Homo sapiens: one gene and its partners. The protein of the gene in region 6 interacts with the protein of the main gene of each other region in a pairwise test. Each region holds a gene or a part of one and is shown on either strand. Other genes may lie near its edges.

Region 1 (3,500 bases), on a different chromosome or scaffold from region 6:
AGAGGCGGAGGTTGCAGTGAGCCGAGAGCACACCACTGCACTCCAGCCTGGTGACAGAGCGAGACTCCGTCTCAAAAAGAAAAAAAAAATGGATGGGATGCTTACTAAAGTGCTGTTCGGCATATACAGAGAGGTCATGGGAGGTCATCAAGAACCATCTCAAGGACTGGAACCTAGGAAGGTGATTGTAGGGCTAGGAAAGGTACGCATGTGATCAGGCATTGGTACAGGCCGTGGCATAGAAGAAACTTCAGCCTAGAGATAGGGCAGGGCATGGAGGGTAGGTGGTGACCTGTTTCATGTGGTTGAGGGAGAGAACCTGGTTTAGGAATTGGCATGTCATGAGGTTTATCCCAAGTCTTTCACAGCCAGTGTTGATGATACAGAAGCGAAATAAAAGTGATAGCACCTTTCTGTTACTCATTTTTCTGGAATGATTATTGGGTGCCTCCTGTGTTTCAGGCACTGTGCTAGTGCTGGGGATGCGACAGGGATCGGACCCAGTCCTTGCCCCATGGTGCTCTCAGCTAGATGAGCAAGACAAACAAAAACAAGCAAATAACAAATAATTACAAACTCCTAGGACTAGTGAGGATACAAGACCAACACATACAAATCAACTGCATTTCTCTATACTCACAGTGAACATGTCAAAACTAAAATAAAAAACACTACCATTTATTGGCCGGCCGCAGTGGCTCATGCCTGTAATCCCAGCACTTTGGAAGGTCGAGGCAAGTGGATCACCTGAGGTCAGGAGTTCGAGACCAGCCTGGCCAATATGATGAAACCTGGTCTTTACTAGAAATACAAAAATTAGCTGGGCGTGGTGGTGGGTGGTTGTAATCCCAGCCACTTGGGAGGCTGAGACGGGAGAATCACTTGAATCTGGGAGATGCAGGTTACAGTGAGCGGATATTGTGCCACTGCACTTCAACCTGGGTGACAGAGTGAAACTGTCTCAAAAAAACAAAACAAACAAAATGGCTGGGCGTGGTGGTTCACGCCTGTAATCCCAGCACTTTGGGAGGCTGAGGTGGGCAGATCACAAGGTCAGGAGATCGAGACCATCCTGGCTAACACAGAGAAACCCCATCTCTACTGAAAATACAAAAATTAGCTGGGCGTGGCAGTGTGTGCCTGTAGTCCCAGCTGCTGGGGAGGCTGAGGCACGAGAATGACGTGAACCTGGGAGGCAGAGCTTGCAGTGAGCCAAGATTGCGCCACTGCACTCCAGCCTGGGCGACAGAGCGAGACTCCGTCTCAAAAAAACAAGCAAATAAACAAACAAACAAAAACACAATGCCATTTATAGTTGTTTCAGAGAAATGAAATACTTGGGTATAAGTCTAACAAAGCATGTGTAGAATCTGTATGCTGAAAATTTTTAAATTGTTGATGAAAGAGATCAAAGATGACTCGGATAAATGGATGACATGTACTTTGTTCATGGATTGGGAGACTGAACATAATGAAGATTTCAATTGTCCCCAAGTTGATCTGTAATTTAACGCAGTTCCTATTAAAATCCCAGCAAGTTTTTTTTTTCTATAGACATAGACAAGCTTATTCTAATAATTACGGGAAGACCAGTTTTACCTAGATTAGCTAAAACAATTTGGAAAAAGGATAGCTGGAGGAATCAGTCTACCCAGGGTTAAGACTTGCTATATAGCTACATAATTAAGCCTAGTGTGGTATTGACCAAGGGACAGATGGACACAGATCAGTGGAACAGAATAGATAACCCAGAAATAGACCTCCACAAGTATACACAACTAATTTTTTTTTTTTTGAGACAGAGTCTTGCTCTGTCACCCAGGATGGAGGGTACTGCTGCTATTACAGCTCACTGCAGCCTTGACCTCCCTGGGCTCAGGCAATCCTTCCACCCCAAGCCTCCCGAGTAGCTGGGACTACAGGTGTGGGACACCATGCCTGGTTATTTGTATTTGTATTTTTTTTTTTTTAGACGGAGTTTCTCTCTCTCTCTTTTTTTTTTTTTTGAGATGGAGTTTCGCTCTTGTTGCCTGACCTGGAGTGCAATGGCGTGATCTCGGCTCACCGCAACCTCCGCCTCCCGGGTTCAAGCGATTCTCCTACAGGCACATGCCACCAGGCCTGGCTAACTTTTTTGTATTTTTAGTAGAGACGGGGTTTCTCCATGTTGGTCAGGCTGGTCTCGAACTCCTGACCTCAGGTGATCCACCCGCCTCGGACTCCCAAAGTGCTGGGATTACAGGTGTGAGTCAACGCGCCTGGCCTGAGTTTCTCTCTTTTTGCCCAGACTGGAGTGCAATGGCGTGATCTCGGCTCACTGCAACCCCCGCCTCCCGGGTTTGATTCACCTGCCTCGACCTCACGGGTAGCTGGGATTACAGGTGCATGCCACCATGCCCAGCTAATCTTGTATTTTTAATAGAGATGGGGTTTCACCATGTTGGCCAGGCTGGTCTTGAACTCCTGACCTCAGGTGATCGCCCGCCTCGGCCTCCCAAAGTGCTGGGATCACTGGCGTGAGCCACCGCGCCCAGCCTGTTTGTATTTTTTTTATAGAGACAGGGTTTCATTATGTTGCCCAGGCTGGCCTCAAACTCCTGGGCTCAAGCAATGCTCCCGCCTCAGCCTCCCAAAATGCTGGGATTACACACAATTGATTTTTGACAAGGGTACAGAAACAATGTGTTGGAGGAAAGACAGCCTTTGAACAAAGGGCGCTGGAGCTATTGGACATCATAGGCTAAAAATATACAATAATCAACCTAAACCTTATACCTTATACAAAAATTGAAAATGGATCATAGACTTAAATGTAAAACCAAATTGTCTAATTTTTAGAACAAAACAGGAGAAAATCTAGGCAAAGAGTTCTTAGATTTGATGCCAAAAGTATGATCCATGAAAAAATTTTTGATTAATGGGGCCTAATCAAAATTTAAAACTTTTGCTGTGCAAAACAGAATGAAAAGAGAAGTACAGAATGGGAAACATAGTTACAAGCCATGTATTCAACAAAGGACTTGTATCTAGAATGAAGAAAGAATTCTTAAAACCCAACAATAAAAAATCAAACAATTCAATTAGAAAATGGGCAAGGGCTGGCTCACACCTGTAATCCCAGCACTTTGAGAGGCTGAGGTGGTCAGATTGCTTGAGCCCAGGAGTTCAAAACTGGCCTGGGCAACGTGGCAAAAACCCTGTCTCTACCAAAAAAATACAAAAATTAGCTGGGTGTGGTGGCACATGCCTGTAGTCCCAGCTACTTGGGGGAGCTGATGTGGGAGGATCACCTCAGCCTGGGAGGTCAAGATTGCAGTGAGCTGTGACCATGCCACTGAATTCTAGCCTGGGTGACACAGTGAGACGTGAGACCCTATCTCAAAAAAAAAAAAAAAGCCAGGCGTGGTGGCTTACGCCTGTAATCCCAGCACTTCGGGAGGCCAAGGCAGGTTGATCACCTGAGGTCGGGAGTTTGAGATCAGCCTGACCAACATGAAGAA
Region 2 (3,500 bases), on a different chromosome or scaffold from region 6:
TGTTTAAAACACTAATGTGATGCCAGCACCATCCCTAGAAATTCTAGTGATTCTGTGGAGCCCAGGCATCAGCAATTTTAAGACCTCCTCAGGTGATTCTAAAACGCTGCCATGTAGATGACCACTGGTCCAGAAGTTTTTGCCAAGATTCCTTCTATTGCTTGTTTTAAGGACCTATGGTATTAAAGCTGAAAATGCATCTTAGACATTTTGCAAAGGTGGAGCCCTCATCTTTACCTTTACAGCAGAGGTTTTTAACTTTGGATGAATCTATTAATTCCCCTCAATCATATACAAACTGTTGATTGAATATGAATATGTATATGTATTTGTATTTTTCAGGAGGGAGTGTCATCTGCCTTTATTAGGTTCTCAAAAGATTTAAGAATGCTATTTTAAAAGCAAATATTAGGTTTCTGACGTAATAAATTTAAGAAAATTAAAGAATGAATGGAAAATAAATTTGGTCTCATCAGCACCTTTGCTATAGTTTGGATTTGATCACACCCACTGCCACCTAGTGGCTATATATCCTTATTGCAGGTTTAGTTCAGATCACATTGCCCATCCTCTGAAAACTGTTGAGCAATAGATGTGCAGATTTCAGATCCAAGCATCAAAGTAAAAGCTTTCTCTGGGACTAGGATTAGTACCAGTAAGAGGCTATCTGGAAACACTCACTACAAGAGATGACTTCCCAAGCTGTACTTGTTAAGGAGACTGTCCACTCAGATATTTTGGATTCATACCCTTAACTGGGTAAGGATATTACGGTTTCCTAGTTCTTACTGTTGTTAACTATTTGCCTTGGCTTGAATCTTGTTTTTCTCTCTTACTAATCATGTGACCTTGGGAAAGTTACTTAACCTTTCCATTCCTCACACAAAATGGGGATAATATAAGTACTTCTAAGATTGCTGTGGAGAATAAATAAGAAAATATATGTAAAAGGCTCAGCATGACTCTTGGCACAGAACAAGATTCCAATAAATATTTAGGTTATATTACTGTTATTACTGATTTTTAAATTATTATTAACATCTCAGTGACCTTGTTCAAGTTACTAAATTTCTTTGAGCTGCATATATTGACCCGTAAGACAAGGAAAATAAGCCCTGCCATTTTCTTCACAGTTATAGCTATGATAAGTACAAAAAGTAAAAGGCATATTGTTATTTTATGGCAACTCATCATACATCCAGGGAATCTACAGAGCACAGGAAAAGGTCACTCAAAAATACAGATGTTAATTCTCACCCTCAGGAAGGAGCTCTTTGAGATCCCAATAGTTGAGCAGGCTCTACATTGGGGTACAGTAATTTCTTGTCACATATCTAGCATCCTACTCAGCCTAAAGTTTCCCACCACGTGGGCGAATGGATGGCCATACCCTGCTATGGATGCTGCAAGCTCCTTTTCCGGTAAGAGAATTATACCAACCACTCACTAGGTCACAAGTGCCTGAAATTGTCAGTCCTCATCCAGCCCAGACACTGACCGGCAGCAGTCTTGCCCATTCCAAACTCACCCCAGGGAGAGAGTCCCAAAAATCTTTTGCCAGCCTGCCTGTCCATGAGAGTCCCTCATCACACCATCATGGTCCACAACCTGCCCCACCAGAGCAGAAACATCCTGAAACCTCTCACCAGCCTCAGCAAAGAATCAAGGTGCCCAGCTGTTACTTACCTGGAGTCTGCTTGGCCGTACGCACAGGAGTGTAGTGGTTTTTGGAGGACGATCTGACCGGCGTGTTCTCTTTGGGAGAGGTATCGATAGCCGAGATAGTTTCTCTTTCACAGTGTGCTATGGGGATTGGTCCCTGTTGTCTTAAGATGTCAGCCAGAGCCCTAAACAAGGAGGAGATCACATAATGAGATTCACTGAGCAGGTGTGCACAACCATGAGGGGAGTTGGCTTACTTTCATATGCCCTTTGATTTACAGAGATGCAGGAAGAGACAGAGACAGCATTCAGCTCTCAATAGTCAGCTACATCTGGTGTTGGTCTCAGGGGGGACACAGGGTAAAGGTTACCATGCCTGGAGGTACAGACTAAAAGGCTGGGACTACGGTTTCTTTCTTTAATTTATTTCACATCAGTAAACTCTGAGCCCTTTCAAAATACTGGCTCCCCAAATATCCACCTATGCCAGGCAGGTATCTATAGCAGCTGGCCAGTGGAATGCCACTATGGTGAAGGGCTGAAACCATCGGCCTCAAATTCAGCAGCAGGTCACTAATATCAGGGGACCACTTCATCATCCAAAACTACACACTGAGTATCATGTACTAGATACTGGAGACCCAAATAAGTACAACACACAGCTCCTGCTATCAAGGAAGGGTGTGATTGAGCTGCAAAGACAGGACATAGAGATGAAAAGATAAAAATCAAAACACGTGGATGGTGCAGACATTGAAGACAACTGGAGTTTAGAGGAGGGAGCAATCACAAACACAGGGGAAAAATACACAGGAAGAAAGAGAGACAGGCAGAGACTCTGCCATAGCAGGAGAGACCCGCCCCCCTGCAAGAGGTCCAGTTACTCAGAGAAAGCAGCTTTTGTTAACTCAGCGCCTAGCTTCAACAACCAAACATGCATTGACTGACGATTCAGCATGCATCAGTCATTGAAGAGACACAGATCAATGGGACCCAATTCCTGCCATCTAGGGGTTCATAATTTAGGGGGAATCGCTCTCCTATTTGCTTTCAAACAGGATGCCCTCTGTGGGTGTGACATGTGAGATACCCACTGGCAGTGGGAAACAGATGAGTGTGGACAGCCACAAGAAACTACACCTGGATACTGTCACTTCAGATCCAGGTCCCCAGTCCTCAATGCACTCCCGTTTTGCACATGCCAGGCAAAGACTATTCCATCTTCTCGAGGGGTGTCTCTGATGGGTGGGGCCCTGCCCACCCCAAGGCTTCCCTCTTACCAGGAGTCCAGCTCCAACACTCTGCCCCCATGAAAAGTGACAACTGCAGCAGTTTAAAAATGCATCTGAGTAAATTGTGGGGGAAAGAATAGTTTCTTCACAAAATGGTCCTGGGACAACTGACTGGATCGCCACATGAAAAAGAAGGGAGTTGGATCCTTACCTCACACCATATAAAAAACTAACTCAAAATGGATTATATACCTAGATATTAGTCCCAAAACTGTAAATCACACTGAGATACCTTTTCATACACACTAGGATAGCTATAACCAAAAAGCCACATAATACCAAGTATTGGCAAGGAGGTAGAGAAATTGGAGCCTTCATACACTACTGGTGGAAATGGAAAACCCTGCAATCCCTTTGGTAAACAGTTTAGCAGCTCCTCAAAACTGCAATGTTCCTTAAACGCAGAATTAACATATGGCCCAGCAAATCTACTCCTAGGTATTCCCAAGAACAATGAAAAATATATGTTGCATTAAACTTGTGTACAAAGGTTCATAGCAGCAGTATTAATAACAGCCAAAGGGTAGATACAACCCAAAAGTCCAT
Region 3 (3,500 bases), on a different chromosome or scaffold from region 6:
TGATGTGTGAGGGAAACTCAAGTTCATGTTGGACATTTTTATCCTGGACAAGTTATCTCAGCTCTCCAGGCCTTGGTTTTCTCATCTGTACAAGGGGTATAATAATAAGTGTCGTAAGGATTAAATGACTGGATGCAGGGAAGGTCATGGTATAAATAAATGGTTGGGTGTGGTGGCATGGGCTTGTAGTCCCAGCTACTCAGGAGGCTGAGGCAGGAGGATTGCCTGAGCCCAGGAGTTCCAGGGTACAGTCAGCTATGATCACGCCACTGCACTCCAGCCTGGGCAACAGAGTGAGATCCTGTCTCAATCAGCCTTCCATCCATCCATCCACCCATCCATCTACCCACTCATCCATCCATCCACCCACCCATTCATTCATCCATCCATCCACCCACCCACCTACCCACTGCACTCATCCATCCACCCACCCACCCCACTCATCCATCCACCCACCCCACTCATCCATCCACCCACGCACTCATCCATCCACCCATCCATCCACCCACTCATCCATCCATCCACCCATCCATCCACCCATTCATTCATCCATCCATCCATCCACCCACCTACCCACTGCACTCATCCATCCACCCACCCACCCACCCACCCCACTCATCCATCCACCCACGCACTCATCCATCCACCCATCCATCCACCCACTCATCCATCCTTCCACCCACCCATTCATTCATCCATCCATCCATCCATCCATCCATCCATCCACCCACCCACCTACTCACCGCACTCATCCATCCACCCACCCCACTCATCCATCCACCCACCCACCCACCCCACTCATCCATCCACCCACCCCACTCATCCATCCACCCACGCACTCATCCACCCACACACTCATCCATCCACCCACCCCACTCATCCATCCAACCACGCACTCATCCATCCACCCACTCATCCACCCGCCCATCCATCCACCCGCCCATCCATCCACCCACCCACCCACCCATCCACCCACCCACCTACCCACCCACACACTCTCCCACCCACCCATCCACCTATCCACCCATCCATCCACCCACCCATCCACCCATCCATCCATCCACCCACCCACCAACTCATCCACCTACCCACCCACCCACTCATCCACCCACCCACCCATCCACCCATCCATCCACCCGCCCACTCATCCATCCACCCGCCCACTCATCCATCCACCCGCCCACTCATCCATCCACCCGCCCATCCATCCATCCACCCACCCATCCATCCACCTACCCACACTCCCACCCAGCCATCCACCCACCCACCCTCCCACCCATCCACCCACCCACCCTCCCACCCATCCACCCACCCACCCATCTACCCATCCGTCCGTCCATCCACCCACCCACCCATCTATCCTTCCACCCACCCACCCACCCACTCATCCATCCACCCATCCACCCACCCACTCATCCATCCACCCACCCACCCACTCTCCCACCCTCGCACCCACCCACCAACTCATCCACCCACCCACCCACTCATCCACCCACCCACCCATCCACCCATCCGTCCACCCGCCCACTCATCCATGCACCCGCCGACTCATCCATCCACCCGCCCATCCATCCATCCACCCACCCACCCACCCCCTCATCCATCCACCCACCCTCCCACCGTCCCACCCATCCACCTATCCACCCATCCACCCACCCACTCGTCTACCCATCCATCCATCCACCCACCCACCCCCCATCCATCCACCCACACACCCACCCACTCATCCATCCACCAACCCACCCACTCATCCACTCATCCATCCACCCACCCACTTATCCATCCACCCACCCACTCATCCACTCATCCATCCACCCACCCACTCATCCATCCACCCACCCATCCACCCACCCTTCCATCCACCCATCCATCCACCCACCCACCCATCCTCCCACCCTTCCACCCACCCACCCATCCACTTATCCACCCATCCACCCACCCACCCATCTACCCATCCATCTATCTGTCCATCCACCTACCCATTCATCCATCCATCCATCCACCCACCCATTCATCCATTTATCCATCCATCCATCCATCCACCCACCCATTCATCCATTTATCCATCCATCCATCCATTCACCCACCCATTCATCCATTTATCCATCCATCCATCCATCCATCCTAGCTATGTTGTAGACCTGTGCTATTCAATATGGTGGCCACCAGCCAGATGTGGCTACTGAGTCACTTGAAATGTGGTTGATCAGAACCAAGATGTGCTGTAAATGTAAAATATACTCAGGGTTCCAAAGACTTGGTCCAAAAACAAACAACAAAAACCAGTGTAAAATATCTTATGAATAATATTTTTATGTTGATTACATGTTAAAATAAGAGTGGGATATGTCTTGGGTCAATGAAATATATTACTAAATTCTTATTGTTTCTACATATGTAATGTGGCTTCTAGGAAACTTGACGGCTCATTGGGCTCACATTATACGCATTATATTTCTTTTTTTTTTCTTTTTGAGACAGCATCTTGCTCTGTGGCCCAGGCTGGAGTGCCGGGGCACAATCTCGGCTCACCACAGCCTCCGTCTCCTGGGTTCAAGTGATTCTCGTGCCTCAGCCTCCTGAGTAGCTGGGATTACAGACATGCGCCACCACGCCCAGCTAATTTTTGTATTTTTAGTAGAGGTGGGGTTTCACCATGTTGGCCAGTCTGGGCACATTGTATTTCTATCAGACAGCAGTGTTCTGCTGTAAATAATGCTCAGTAAACATTTTAGCCAGGTGTGGTAGCACATGCCTGTAGTCCCAGCTACTCAGGAGGCTGAGGTGGGAGGGTCCCTTGAACTCAGGAGTTCAAGACCAGCCTGAGCAACATAGTGAGACCCCATCTCTAAAATAAAATAAAATAAAATAAAATAAAATAAAATAAAATAAATGAATAAATAAAATAAAAAGAAAGTGGGGCCAGGTGTGGTGGCTCATGCCTGTAATCCCAGCACTTTGGGAGGCTAAGGTGGGTGGGTTGCTTGAGGTCAGGGTTTGAGACCAGCCTGGTCAACGTGGTGAAACCCCATCTCTACTAAAAATACAAAAAGTAGCCGGGCATGGTGGTGCACGCCTGTAGTCCCAGCTACTTGGGAGGCTGAAGCAGGAGAATAGCTTGAACTTGGGAAGCAGAGGTCGCAGTGAGCCGAGATGGCACCACTGCACTCCAGCCTGGGTGACAGAGCAAGATTGTCTCAAAAAAAAAAGGAAAGAAAAATAGAATAAGTTTATAGTATAAGGCAGTGGTTCTCAACTGGTGATGATTTTGACACTTAATTGACATTTGGCAGTGTCTGGGGACATTTGTGGTTGTCATTACTTGGGAGGAATGTACTACTGACGTCTAGTAAATACAGACCAGAGATTTTGCTAAACATCTCACAGTGTACAGGACAGGACAGCATCCCCTGAATACAAAGAATTTTCCAGCCCCAAGTACCAATGAACCAAGGTGGAAGAACATCGGTGTATAATAAGTGTCTGATAAATGTCAGTGT
Region 4 (2,758 bases), on a different chromosome or scaffold from region 6:
ACCTAGAAGTTTATACAGTCTAGCAGAGGAGCCAAGACCACAGGTAAATGTGAGCACTGCTGAAGCAGAAGTGGAGAATGGAAGCAGGAGGTCAGGATTTCTAGCCAAATGTCAGCTGGGAGTCAGAGGTGTGTGTGGCATAGCATTCCAGGCAGAAGGAATCTGGTAAACTAAAATGACAATAGGATATGTCTAGGGATTCAGTTTAACTGTTGCATGGTTCTCAGACCCAAACTAAGCCCTCCTTCTCAGACCAAGTAAAATGGCCTCAGATGTAATTCAGTTTTGAACTTCATACCTTTTAAAAACTGAAGTTCGTCCTTCAGTTTTGAATGTCACACCTTTTAAAAGCTGAGGTATACTTCCTAATGATTATAAACACCAAATTAAAAAGGAATCCATTTAGTTAGCTATTTAGGCTTAAGCACAGAAGGTTCTTAAAAGAACCCTATATTGCTCATTGATTTCTAAAAGAAAATGAAACCCACCAAGACAAGAAATGTGTTGCTGACCTTCACTTTTATTTAAATATAGTGATCTTTTAAGAGAATAAACAAAAAATACTTTACACAGCAAATATTTTACATAAATGTAAACATGCATGTCTACTTCATAATTAAGCAAAAAAACTTTTAGGCACAAGATTTTAAAAATAAAGAATGAGACAATGAAACCAAGACTGGAATAACAGAAGTAACAAAAACTCACATTTCCTAACTCTTCAATTGGTCTTGTCTTCCAACCTATTGGTTAAGGCCTGAGTTTCAGAAATCCTACCTTCCTTGCCAAATAGAAACATCCACTTTGGCTGTATATAACATTATCCACATAACACACTAATTCTCTTTCAAAATAATGTAATAAATATACCATTCATACACACACACACACACACACACACACACCCTGCTGAACCAGCCTCTCAAATAGGAAAATAAGGATTTTGGAATTTTCAAGTTTTCCTACAACCAAAGCACATACACACACATTAACACCTTACATAGAAAAAATGATTCTGCTACAGAAATAAAATCGTTAGTGAGTGGCATGATTACAAACCTCTAGTTCATTTGTATTAAGTTTCTTCAATCACAACTTTACTAAGGCTTACTAAGCGCCTCTGACACTTCAGATTTAATTAAGTTTTTCATCTCATCTAAATGACCCACAGTACAGTAGACATTGTACAGCACAAAAAAAAGGCAATTTTAATAATTCAGTTAAAGACTTCTAAATCATGAAAGTCAGCATGGATACTTTCAGCTGTCTCCAAATGCCTGGAATGTTTTCCTATGTCTATCCTCTGCACTTCACTGGCTGGGTAGTCTTCTCTGCCTTCTACCCCACCAGGCTACAACCATTTGAATGTCCATTCCTGTGGATACCCCAGGGAGGAGATGAGAATGACAGTCCCTGCTTTTTTTTTCCCTTTTTCTTTTTGTAGAAACAGGGTCTCGCCATGTTGCCCAGGCTGGTCTCAAACTCCTGGACTCAAGCAATCCTCCCACCTCAGCCTCCCAAAGTGCTGGGATTACAGGCATGAGTCACCACAGCCAGCCCAGTACCTGCTTTTAAGGAGCTCATACCGACCAGAGTTCAAGCAAAAAAAAAAAAAAAAAAAAAAGGTCAGTATGTACACACAGGGCACTCCATGTGGGTTGAAAAAAAAGACAAGAGTCCACAAAGATGGTACCCACAGAACCTCAAAAGTGGGGTATGGAGGGAGAGAAGGAGAATGAGAGAAGGCACAGAGGCAGGAAGAACAAGTCCGGTTTGGCTGGCAGGAGGGCATCTGTGAGAAGCCATCTGTGAAGCCAAATTCTTGATTTCTAAAAAGAAAAGATTGCTTACTCTGGTGGGTAAAGCTGGAGGGCAGAGGGCAGAACCACCAAAGGCTTTGTGCAGAGAACAAAATTGAAGCCGTGCTAGAGAAAAACCATACAGTGTTGGGCAGGACAGATGACAGGACAAACGGTCTGAAGCTCAGGAAGCTTGACTCACCAAGCCAGTGCCACGTGCAAGCATTTCCTATAGAAACACGTCTTGACCCAACATGCCAAAAACCATAGTTCTGTCTACAGAAATCAAGGCTTTCAGAAAAAAGTTGGGGAGGAGAGAAAGAGAGAGAGGCTTAAATAGATATTTTTAGTTCAAGTTCCTGGAACCTGCCCCAGTTTGAGCAAGTTAAGAGCAGTGAAACAATTCCTACATCCAGTAACAATTCAAGTCTCCTGATCATGACCTTGTGAAACCTTCCCTGAGCTGTCATTACCAAGGAATTATAAAGCAATTATCAATCCACTATAAATAAGTTCCTACCTGCCATTAAATCCACCAAAATCTCATGATGGGCTGAGAGCCCAGCACGGGGTCCTAGCGTAGACCTATTACCTACACTAGGGTAGGTGGTGTGAGCATGCTGCTGGGCAGTGGCTCTCTGGGCTCACTATGATGATGAAACAGTTGACTCTATGAAGTTTAACTCTAATGAAAGCCCCTATGACAGACCACCTATTTCCTTTCTAAGTCCAGACTGCTTCCCCTCCACTAGCTGGGGAGGGAGAGGCCATATGAGTGGAGGGACCTGTGGAGGAAAAATTATTATTACTACCTTGATGTCCGCTGAACCAAAGTGGATGGAAATTTCTCAGGACATATTCATCCAAACTACAAAAACAGGTTACTCCATACTGATTACAGGATGATTTATCACACATTCATTAAATATAGAACATTGACTAGCAACCAGTTTCCTCCA
Region 5 (3,500 bases), on a different chromosome or scaffold from region 6:
TTGGCAGTTTTAATTCTGCTGTCTCAATTCTTAGTGGGTGCAAAATGATAGTGGGTTCAACCTTCCCTTTATTCGTTCAAACAGTCCCTCTGCTTTTCTCCCTGTGCTTTTGCCTCTGGTGGTAGTGACAGTGTCAGTGTGTTCTGGGGGAAGGTAGCATGGGTGATGATGTCCGCCTCTTTTTTTAAACCTCCTGCAACTTAAACTGTGCCCTCAGTCAAATTAGCTATTTTGTCAAATCAACCACATGCTGCAGTATCTCTAGTCAACTACTGCTGGCTTTCAGCTTTCCACAGCTGAGACCCGTGTCCAAAGTTGTATTTTTTGTACTTTTTATAGATTTTTTTTCAATTTTTTGCATTATGGCTCTTCTCCCCTGATTCACCTGCTGATGCATTCATCTCCTGCCCTCCTCCTGGCAGGGGCAATCCAAGGGTAGAGTCCATGACTTTGGTGTCAGGCTCTGGCAGACTCTAAATTCCAGGTCACTGAGTTAGCATTGGTGATCTTCTCATTCTGTTTGATGTACAGTAGGCAAACTTTATAAATTAAATGATAAACCTCCCTCAAAGCCACTTGAAACGCTCAGCAAGGTCTATATTTCATGGCCCTGTGGGAGATGTGACAGCCATGATCTTGTTAGCCTTTGGGTGGGTGTTCTGTGTGGTATCACACTGCCCTGGTGGTCTAATGAGGAGCTGGACCCTCCTGCAAGCGCCTGCAGTACCAGGCAGCCTGCAGGAAATGCACTGTAGAGCTGCAGCCACCCACCTTGTGTGTAGGGAAGGAGAAGGTGAAATTGACTGAGGATGTCAAGTAACATGGAGGAAGTGTGACTTGGGGGATTGACTGAATGGGCTGTAGCAAAGTATAGGGCTGGAGAGTTCAAAGGAGTTTAGAGAATTTTTTGTGCACTGAAAATGGGTGCAGGAGGACACAAAATGGGATTTGAAGAAATCCATTTATTACGGTGTTTAGAGAAGGGGCAGACATGCTCATACCTATAATATATAATTTAGGACCATAATCCTGTTAGCATCAAATAGGACAGGTTGGAAGGGGGCTTGACTGACCACTTCAGAGGGGACTTCAGTTTTCCAGTCAAAGCCGGTGCAGTTTTGAAATAGGGAACTCATAATGGAAATAGGAGGTTAAATTGCATGGGTAGACTTGACTGAATTTGGCAGTAATTGGACATGGAGGGTGAAGAAGAGGAAGGTGATGATGAGTCTGGACACATTGGGCTTGAAGTGCTTGCAGGTCTTTCAAATGAAGAGATTCCATGGTCAGGTGGTCTCTGAGGGCTGGAACTCAGGAGGGGGCATGGGCTAGGGGCATAGGTGGAGTTGGTGGCTGAAGCCCTGGAAAGGATCAACATTACCAAGGAAGAGAGTGTAGAGAGAGAAGAGGTAAAGAGAGTGCCTGGAAAATGCGTGCACTTCCGGAGGAGAGGGAAGAAGAACCAGTGAGAGACGCTGAGAAGAAGCAACCACAAAGCCAGGAGGACGAGGAGATTGTGGTGTCATGGAAGTCAATGTCGCTTGGTGGCTTTCAGTCCCTAAGATGTGGCTTCTCAGGTGTGCTACAGCAGGTCCTTCAGGTTCTGTCCTGGTCTCCTCACTGGGCCCCCAGTTGCTTGTGTGTTGCCATTGCCCCTGGAGAGATCAGCACCTGCTGCAGGCCCTGTGTCCTCCACCAGTAACTGCTGCTACCACCACTCCGGGCTTATGGAACCGTCCCCAAACACTGCTGAGACCAAGCTGTAATTTCAACAAGATCTTTCTGAAGAGTTGAGGACAAAGAGGTGGGGAAAAACCCCCCAAAGAATTCTAGGCCAGAAGAATAACTTACAAGTACTTCTAGATGTCGCTATTCTCAGAGCTCCCAGGCAAGCTATGGCCTTGAGGTCCCTCCCAGGTCTCCTCCAAGTCTTCTTTACCCACTTCTCCTGGAGGTGCTCCAGGCCAAACTCACACAGTGAAGGAGGATGGTTTTCTCCCTTCTCTCTGAGGTCCACCTTCCAGGTCTTCTTTCCTTGATAAGGGTGACTGCTTCCCAAGTTGACTAAATGGGAAAGGTCACACACACCTCGCCTCCCACCACCATTGTTTGATGTTCAGTAGGAAAACTTTATAAATTACAAGATAAAACCTCCCTGGAAGCTAGAGAGGTTTTAGAATAGGGTGGTGTCCTATTCTTGCAACCTGGGCAGGACAGATAAGTAACAGAACAAGAGTACAACATCAGTACAGTCTGGGGTGTACCATCTCAACAACACATGTTGGTTGCCGGCCATCCATTCTGGAGGCTTTTCCTGACTTAATCATAGGGATGAGCTGAAACTCATGCCTGTGTATCCTTCTTGCAGTCCTGGGGCCTCACCTCTGGATCTCCTGCAATCAGCACCTGAGCTAGAATCCACATAACTCTCCAAGACAGCCATGTGGGAGAAAGTCATGTGATTTTGAAAGATTTGGTTTCACACATATGCTCTCAATGTAGACCCATTTCTCAACTGAGACCCATTTCTCTAGACGAATGCACTGTCCTCTAGGACTTTCTGTGATGATGAAAATATTCTGTATCTGTGCTATTCGATACGGTGGCCATTCGCCACATGTGGCTACTGAGCATTAGAAATATGGCTGGTGAGACTGATGAACAGAATTATTAATTTTATTATATTTTAACAATTTAAATGGCCTTATGTGGTTGGTGACTGCTGTATTGGACTGCCCTGGCCTAGGTTATTTCTAAGGTCTCCTGCATCTTGAAGCTTCTGTAACTATACTGTGTATAGCCTCGTTGGTGACAAAACTTTATCTCTTATCTCATCTGTTGTTTTTTTTTTTTGAGACAGAGTCTTGGTCTGTTGCCCAGACTGAAGTGCAGTAGTGTGATCTCGGCTCATTGCAACCTCCCTCTCCCAGGCTCAAGCTATCCTCCTGCCTCAGTCTCTGGAGTAGCTGGGACTACAGATGTGCACCATCATGCCCGGCTAATTTTTGTATTTTTTGTAGAGACCGGGTTTTGCCATGTTGCCCAGGCTGGTCTCAAACTCCTGAGCTTAAGTGATCAGCCAGCCTCAGCATCCTAAAGTGCTGGGATTACAGGCATGAGCCACCATGCCTGGCCTATCTCATCTTTTTTCTTTGCTTTTTTAGAGAGAGGGTCTGATCCTGTCACCCAGGTTGGAGCATTAGTGGCATGATCATAGCTCACTGCAGCTTTAAACTCTTGGGTTCTAGTGATCTTCTCATTTCAGCCTCCTGAGTAGCTGAAACTCTAGGCGTGCATTACCATGCCTGGATAAGTTTTTAATGTTTTGTAGAGATGGGAGTCTTGCTATGTTGCCCAGTCTGAACTTGAACTCCTGGTCTCAAGGAATCTTCCTGCCTTGGCCTCAAAGTACTGTGATAACAGGCATGTGAGCCACCGTGCCAGCGCCAAATCCTCATCTCTTAAGGGTAGAATTCAGTTCAATTTTTGGAAACAATCAA
Region 6 (3,500 bases):
CTTTGGAGGTGGCCAGGAAGCCCATAGGAGGAGGGAATGCTCAGTGTGTGCCCTGAGAGCTTTGCCACTGTCAGAAAGCACCTGACAGGAACAAGTTTGATTGTATTTGACACATGCCGGCACTACCACAGAAAGTTTTAGCAACAGATAAGAGGGGACATCTGTACTCTCAACTTCTTTTTTCATACTTCCTATTGAAGTTTTCATCTCTACTCTCAGGCATTTAATTTCTAAGACTGCTGTTTATTTTTAATTGTCTTAAAAAATAGCATCCCATTCTTGTTTAACAGATGATATAGCTTCTTTTACCTCCTTGAGGAAGATATTAATAATAGTTTTTTAAAACTTTTCTTCTCACTGCACAATCTCTTTTCTTTGTCCTCCTTTTGTTCCTGTTTAAAATGATAGCCATTTATCTTTTTCTCAGGTGTCTGGTGATGTGTGGTTGTCTGGTCATGTTTAACAGTGGGATTTATAATGCCGATTGGAAGCTGTGAGCATATGGGTGGAGCTTCTGAACTTTTCTGCAGTGTGAGCTGGTGCATCAATTAATTGGGAACCCATAGGTCAGTATCTTCGACTGTGTTGTCTTGGGTTGTTCAGATTGTCTGGAGAAGACTCACCCACCCTTATTTCTGGAGGGATGAAGGCCTATAAACTCCGGAAACAAAGTAGAGATAGAGGGAATGTCTTAGAGCTTGTAGGTATGTGTTTATCTAATCCACATGTTTTCCAGACAGAACCTCCATCCTCAATTGTGCCTGATGTTTCACCTCCAGAGATTCTTTAGAAAATAAATGTCCAGGCCAGGTGGGGTGGTTCACACCTCTAATCCCAGCACTTTGGGAGGCTGAGGTGGGCGGATCACCTGAGGTCAGGAGTTCGAAACCAGACTGGCCAACATGATGAAACCCCGTCTCTACTAAAAATATAAAAATTAGCTGGGTGTGGTGGCAGGTGCCTGTGATCCCAGCTACTCAGGATGCTGAGGCAGGACAATCACTTGAACTGGGAGGCGGAGGTTGCGGTGAGCTGAGATTACGTCACTACACTCCAGCCTGGGTGACAGAGTGAGACTCTGTCTCACAAAAAAAAAGAAAAGAAAAGAAATGTCCAGTCTCTACTAGGGAAGGGCATTTTTCCAGAGGCAGGGAATAGGGGAGAGGGTCCAGGGATCTAATTTCTTATTATTATTTTTATTTTTTTTTAGTTTTGAGATGCAGTCTTAACTCTGTCGCCCAGGTTGGAGTGCAATGGCGTGATTTCAGCTCACTGCAACCTCTGCCTCTGGGGTTCAAGTGATTCTCCTGCCTCAGCCTCCCAGGTAGCTGGGATTACAGGTGCCTGCCATGACACCTGGCTAATTTTTGTATTTTTAGTAGAGACAGGGTTTCACCATGTTTTTCAGGCTGGTCTCGAACTCCTGACCTTAGGTGATCCACCTACCTTGGCCTCACAAAGTGCTGGGATTACAGGCGTGAGCCACCAAGCCTGGCCTTCTTCTTATTTTTAATATAAAGCCAGATTTGTTGAGTTATAATTTACATAGAACAAAATTCACTTGTTAGTAGACAATTGTATGAGTTGTGACATAAAACTATCTCAGCATATAACTCATATGCTGAGTTATGTGGTAAGTATGTGTTTAAATGTATAGGAAATTGCCAAATTGTTGTCTCAGGTGGTTGTACCATTTTATTTATTTTATTTTATTTTATTTTATTTTATTTTATTATTTTATTTTATTTTATTTTATTTTATTTTATTTTATTTTATTTTATTATTTTATTTTATTTTATTTTATTTTATTTATTTTATTTATTTTTGAGACAGAGTCTCGCTCTATTGCCCAGGCTGGAGTGCAGTGGCACGATCTCGGCTCACTGCAACCTCCACCTCGTGGGTTCAAGTGATTCTCCTGCCTCAGCCTCCCAAGTAGCTAGGATTACAGGCGTGCACCACCACACCCAGCTAATTTTTGTATTTTTAGTAGAGATGGGGTTTCACCATGGAGGCCAGGCTGGTCTCAAGTTCCTGACCTCAGGTGATCTGCCTGCCTCAGCCTCCCAAAGTGTTGGGATTACAGGCGTAAGCCACTGCGCCTGGCCTGGCAGTACCATTTTAAATTTTCACCACTAATCTATGAACATTCCAGTTGTTCCTCATTCTTGTCAACACTTGGTATTTTCAGATTTTTATTTTTTAATTTTAGCCATTCTAATAGGTATGGATTTAATTTCCATTTTTCTAATAGCCATGATGCTGAGCATCTTTTTGTGTGCTTGCCATTTGTGTATCTCCTTTGGTGAAGTGTCTTTTCAAACACTTTCCCTATTTTTATTGGGCTGTTGTGTTACTGAGTTTTCAGAGATGTATGTGTATTCTGGATTTAGGTCCTTTATCAGATACGTGTTTTGCAAATGTTTTGTCCTCATCTAGTGGCTTGTCTTTTCATTGTGACTGTCTTTTGAAGAGCAGATTTTTAAAATTTTGGTGTGGCTAATAAATTATTTAGTTGTATGGATTATGCTTTTGGTTTTGTGTCTAGGAAATTGTTACCTAATTCAAGGTCACAAAGATTTTTCTCCTGTTTTCTTCCAGAAGTTTTAAAATTTGGGGTTTTACATTTAGGTATGTTATTAATTTTTGTATAATTTTTGTATGTTAGGCAAGGTATAGATTGAAGTTCTTTGTTTTTGCATATGGATGTTCAATTTTTCCAGCACCATTTGTTGTAAAGGTTATTCTTTCTTGATTGAATTGAATGTATACCTTTGTTGAGAGTTCACAAAGCTGTGGTCTGTTTTTGGATCCTCTAATTTTATTTCACTTATCTCTTTGTCTGTCGCTCTGTCACTTGACCAGTACCACACTCTTTATGGCCATAAATGTTGAAATCTAGTACTGCAATTCCCCAACATTTCTCTTTCTCTAAATTGTTTTGTCTGGTCTAGTTCCTTTGTTTTTCCAAATAAATTTGAGAATTACTTGTTGATTTCTGCTAAAATTTCAACTTGGATTTTGGTTGGCATTGCATTGATTATATAGATGAATTTGAGGAGATTTGACATTTTAACAATATTGAGTCTTCTAGTCCATAAATATGGCATATTCTCTCCATCTATATGTCTGTGGATCCTTATATCTGTGTTTTGTTGTTTTCAGCATAGAAATCTTGCACATAGTTTCATGAGATTTATACTTAAGTGTTTCATGTTTTGGTGCTATTATATAATATATGGTAATTTTTAAAAAACATTAGATTTTTAATTTTTTGTTATAAGTATGTGGATACAATTGACCTTTGTATGTTGAATTTGTATTCTGTGACTTTGCTAAACTCAATTAGTTCTAATAACTTTTTTTCTAGTTTCTTTGGGATTTTCTGTATAGACAATCATATCATCTGCAAATAGAGACAGTTTCATTTCTGCCTTTCTAATCAATAAACCTTTTATTTCTTTTTCTTGCCTTACTGCACAGGCTAGGATCTCTAGTAT
Region 7 (3,500 bases), on a different chromosome or scaffold from region 6:
ATCAGGGCCAGGGGAAGGACCTGTGAGTGAATGTCATCTCACCCGGGGGTCCTGGGAGAGCCAGTGGCAAAGGCTTTTGTGTGTTGCCTCAGCCCTGCATGCCAGGATGTTGCTGGGAGCCGGAGGACCCTGGATTGCTACTTTTAAAGTAGTCGACCTTTTGTTCATTCACTCATTCATTTATGCATTTACTCACTTATCCAGCATCAATTTGACACACCTTACTGATGCCTGCAGGGGCAGACCCAGTGCTAGCCAAGGGTGACCCAGAAATGTGGGCAGCAGGGCGTCTGTGCCAGGAGCTCACAGTCCTGTGGCGTAGGCAGGTGGCTGATGTGGGCAGCTAAGGGAGCACAGGGTTGCGTGTGAGCCCAGAGCAGTGCCTCCCCACCCCCTGTCCTTCAGGTCTGGGTGCAGAGGACTGGCAGCATGGGGTGAGGGATAGCTGGGTGCATCCGCCAGTCCTTCTTCTTTCTGAGGACCAGGAGTACTTAGAGGCTCAGAGGTGTGGTTGGGGCCCTCGTGTTGATGACTCAAAAACTAGACCTAGGAAGGGAACGAACCTTCCCCAGGCACATAGTAAATCTGTAGTGGGCCAAGATTGGAGCCCAGTGACCACCCCCAACCCCGTGCACTCTGGAAGTGGCAGGAACCCAAGGCTGCTCTGGACGAGTCAGCAGCGGCCCAGCATCCCCCAGGTTTGCTGGTGGGCCGAGTGGTGGGCAGATTGTAGGGACATAACCCCTGCATGTGTCATGATCGATCTTCTGCTTTCCCCAAGACCATGTCCCTGCATCTCTACCAGGGGCCCGCAGTTGCCAGAAGAGTCTGAGTGAGACTCCCTTTTGGATCCAGCTCGTTAGGCTCGGGTAGCAGCGTCCCATGCCAGCTGTTGGTGTAATTAAGGTTGCCATAAAACCCACCAGCTAGACACACAAATGGCTCCTTTGCTCTTTCCTGGGGCATGAGCAGTTGTGAAGGCGAGTAAATCATGTTCGGTGGCGATCACTTCAAAGGCCAGCCTTCCACTTGCAGCCACATTATTGGCAGGGATCGCCCATAACACGGCTTGTTTCCCAGCCATTCACTTTTATGACACCCTAATGAATTGGGCCATTTCCATCCATTCTCAGAAAATGTACGGAACAACTGTTTTGGTTCTCCTCAAAAAGTTTGTCTTGGGAGGCAGGTGGTGTGTTGGCAGGGGCATGTAGGTAGTTCTTGGCTCCTGGGCAAGTTGCCTGTCTCTGAGACTTCATGCCCACCGAGAGAAGCTACCTATGGGGCTCTTGTCATGAGATAACTTATGTGAACCCCCCAGCCAAGGCCCAGCACCTAACGGGCACTCAGCGAGTGGCAGGGAGGGCCGTCATCTTCCTCATCCTTTCCCTGGGTCAGCCTCTTAGGGATCAAAGTGTTGAGGCTGGTGGGGGCTGTGATATCAAGGCCATGTGGGAGGATAGAGCAGGCACAGGCATGCAGAATCCAGTGCGTGGAGGAAGGCAGGCAGCCGTGCCGTGAGGGGCAGCTTGTCTCCCTGTTCTGCATTCAGAAGGCTTTTTTTTTCCACCCCTGGATCATTCTTTAGGCTTCAGGGGGCCCACTCTGAAATCTCCCTGGTTGAGGGTTGCTTTGGAAGAGGCTCAGAGAAGAGCGGTCATCTGTTGCCTACCCTCCCCCAGGAATTACAGAGGCAGGAATTGACCAGCAGGAGAATGAACCGTGGGTCCCAGGGAAGCCGTGGAGGTCGGAAGAGGCTCCACCATGCCCTGGCCCTGTGACCTTGAGCAAATCCGTACCTCTTCCTGGGCCTCAGTGAACCTCATCCAGAGAATGGGCCTCAACCTCCTCCTCCTCTAACCTAAACTGAAATTATGGAGTGACACATTTAATGTGAATTTGATGTATACATTTTAAGGAGGATGACAGAAAATATGTCTGCAAAATTTGAAAGGTATGAACTCCAATTAAAAAGTCAAGGTGGCTCATTTTGAGCTGGCGGGGCCCAGGGACTGAACTGTTTATGCTGCAGCCACATGGTGGCGGCCCAGGAACTGGTAAAGGGACCGGCCGGCCCCTGCGACCAACTTGAGACCTTGCTGCGCTTCCATGGCTGCGCGTGGGTGCCCAGCATGTTATTTCCATATTGTCATTAAAGTCCTGTCCTCTGTGAGTTTGTTAAGTGGAGCTACTTGCTGGTCCTGGTACTGGGACCCTTCTCCATCCCCTCACCAGAGCTGGATACTTGAGAGCAGAAGCTGAATGTGATAAAATCCTCTAAGAAAGCAAAACAACTGCTCAATACTTAATAAAGTCAGTTTATGAGACAGCAGACTGTGAAGTATCGGTGATGATGCTAAAACAATACAAAGTGTCGTTAAAGCTAAAATATGTCCTGTGATTCTGGCTTTATGGTCTGTCCCCAAGCACACTTGCTCCTGCATTACTGTGGCTCCTCTGGGACAACAATCTGGGACTTTGCAAGCTGTGAATTATGTGACGTCTTCAGAAGCAGGACCCACTCAAAGCATGACCCCAGTGTTGATGGATGTCAATATGCTCTCGAGGTGCCCTTGGCGAGTCAAGGCCCTTCCCTTTGCGCTTTCCCTGGGATCCTGCTGCTCTCAAGGGGTGATAGGGATGCCTCTCTGGACCCATGTGGCAATAGAGCAGGGGGGCTGAGAAGCTGACAGACACTGGACTGGGCATGGGGCAGGAGGGTCCATGATTCCATATATGGCTTGTGGGTGCTGCTCAGCCTGGGTGTGTGTGGCCCAGCATAAACTTCACTAAACCTGCCTGCCCCCTGGGTCCTTGGCCTTCCCTGCATAGGCGCCTGTCCGTGCTGCCAGGCCTGCCAGCATGACCGGTGTCCGCTCTTGCAGGTGATGAGAAGCTACAAGGCGACCATCCAGCAGACCTTGGACATCCTGTTCCTCCGGGAAGGCTCCGAGTTCCTGAGCAGCACAGACGCTTCCACCCGGGACTCAGCTGACCGCACCATTATTGCCTGGGATTTCCGGACCTCTGCCAAAATCTCCAACCAGATTTTCCACGTAAGAAATCCCATTTGGCATTGCTGTCAGTTTCAGCCACAGAGCGTATCCATGTAGTTCTGGTCTGTCTGAGGTCCCAGGTCCCTTCTGTGGGAGGAGGCTCACTGGACTGAAATCTCCAGGATGAGGGTAGTCAGGTCTCAGCCTGCCGCACACATGGAGAGCTTGCTGTGGGCTTCCAGATGCAACCTCCTTCTGCTCTTCTTGTGCCAGCACAGCAACCCCACAGGGTAAGGGTCTGGTGGGGGGCGGTTCAGTCCAGATCAATGGGGAACGTGGCAGTGCAACCTGAGAAACCCCACCCTCCCACTGCCACCACAACCAGCTACTCAGAAGGGGTTTCTGACCCTCAGTGGCATTGGCAGTTGATGTAGCCCAGGAGTTCAGAGCAGGGGCCCCACAGTTAGAACACCTGCATTAAGGTTTTGGATTCACTAGGACCTT

Evidence for each region.
Region 1: the proteins of HSF2BP (region 6) and RAD51D interact in binary tests that used the Homo sapiens proteins (3 or more experiments, as listed by UniProt).
Region 2: the proteins of HSF2BP (region 6) and SHISA6 interact in binary tests that used the Homo sapiens proteins (3 or more experiments, as listed by UniProt).
Region 3: the proteins of HSF2BP (region 6) and CAMSAP3 interact in binary tests that used the Homo sapiens proteins (3 or more experiments, as listed by UniProt).
Region 4: the proteins of HSF2BP (region 6) and EAF1 interact in binary tests that used the Homo sapiens proteins (3 or more experiments, as listed by UniProt).
Region 5: the proteins of HSF2BP (region 6) and FAM124B interact in binary tests that used the Homo sapiens proteins (3 or more experiments, as listed by UniProt).
Region 7: the proteins of HSF2BP (region 6) and WDR25 interact in binary tests that used the Homo sapiens proteins (3 or more experiments, as listed by UniProt).

The regions. Positions count from the first base shown.
Region 1 is NC_000017.11:35,109,861-35,113,360, reverse strand, and holds part of RAD51D (DNA repair protein RAD51 homolog 4), read left to right. Parts: intron 1-3,500. UniProt on the Homo sapiens protein: Involved in the homologous recombination repair (HRR) pathway of double-stranded DNA breaks arising during DNA replication or induced by DNA-damaging agents. Bind to single-stranded DNA (ssDNA) and has DNA-dependent ATPase activity.
Region 2 is NC_000017.11:11,261,713-11,265,212, reverse strand, and holds part of SHISA6 (protein shisa-6 isoform 1 precursor), read right to left. Parts: intron 1,848-3,500; coding exon 1,687-1,847; intron 1-1,686. UniProt on the Homo sapiens protein: Involved in maintenance of high-frequency synaptic transmission at hippocampal CA3-CA1 synapses.
Region 3 is NC_000019.10:7,598,863-7,602,362, forward strand, and holds part of CAMSAP3 (calmodulin-regulated spectrin-associated protein 3), read left to right. Parts: intron 1-3,500. UniProt on the Homo sapiens protein: Key microtubule-organizing protein that specifically binds the minus-end of non-centrosomal microtubules and regulates their dynamics and organization.
Region 4 is NC_000003.12:15,440,356-15,443,113, reverse strand, and holds the end of EAF1 (ELL-associated factor 1), read right to left. Parts: 3' UTR 501-2,758; downstream 1-500. UniProt on the Homo sapiens protein: Acts as a transcriptional transactivator of ELL and ELL2 elongation activities.
Region 5 is NC_000002.12:224,392,108-224,395,607, reverse strand, and holds part of FAM124B (protein FAM124B), read left to right. Parts: intron 1-3,500.
Region 6 is NC_000021.9:43,533,989-43,537,488, reverse strand, and holds part of HSF2BP (heat shock factor 2-binding protein), read left to right. Parts: intron 1-3,500. UniProt on the Homo sapiens protein: Meiotic recombination factor component of recombination bridges involved in meiotic double-strand break repair.
Region 7 is NC_000014.9:100,522,985-100,526,484, forward strand, and holds part of WDR25 (WD repeat-containing protein 25), read left to right. Parts: intron 1-2,885; coding exon 2,886-3,056; intron 3,057-3,500.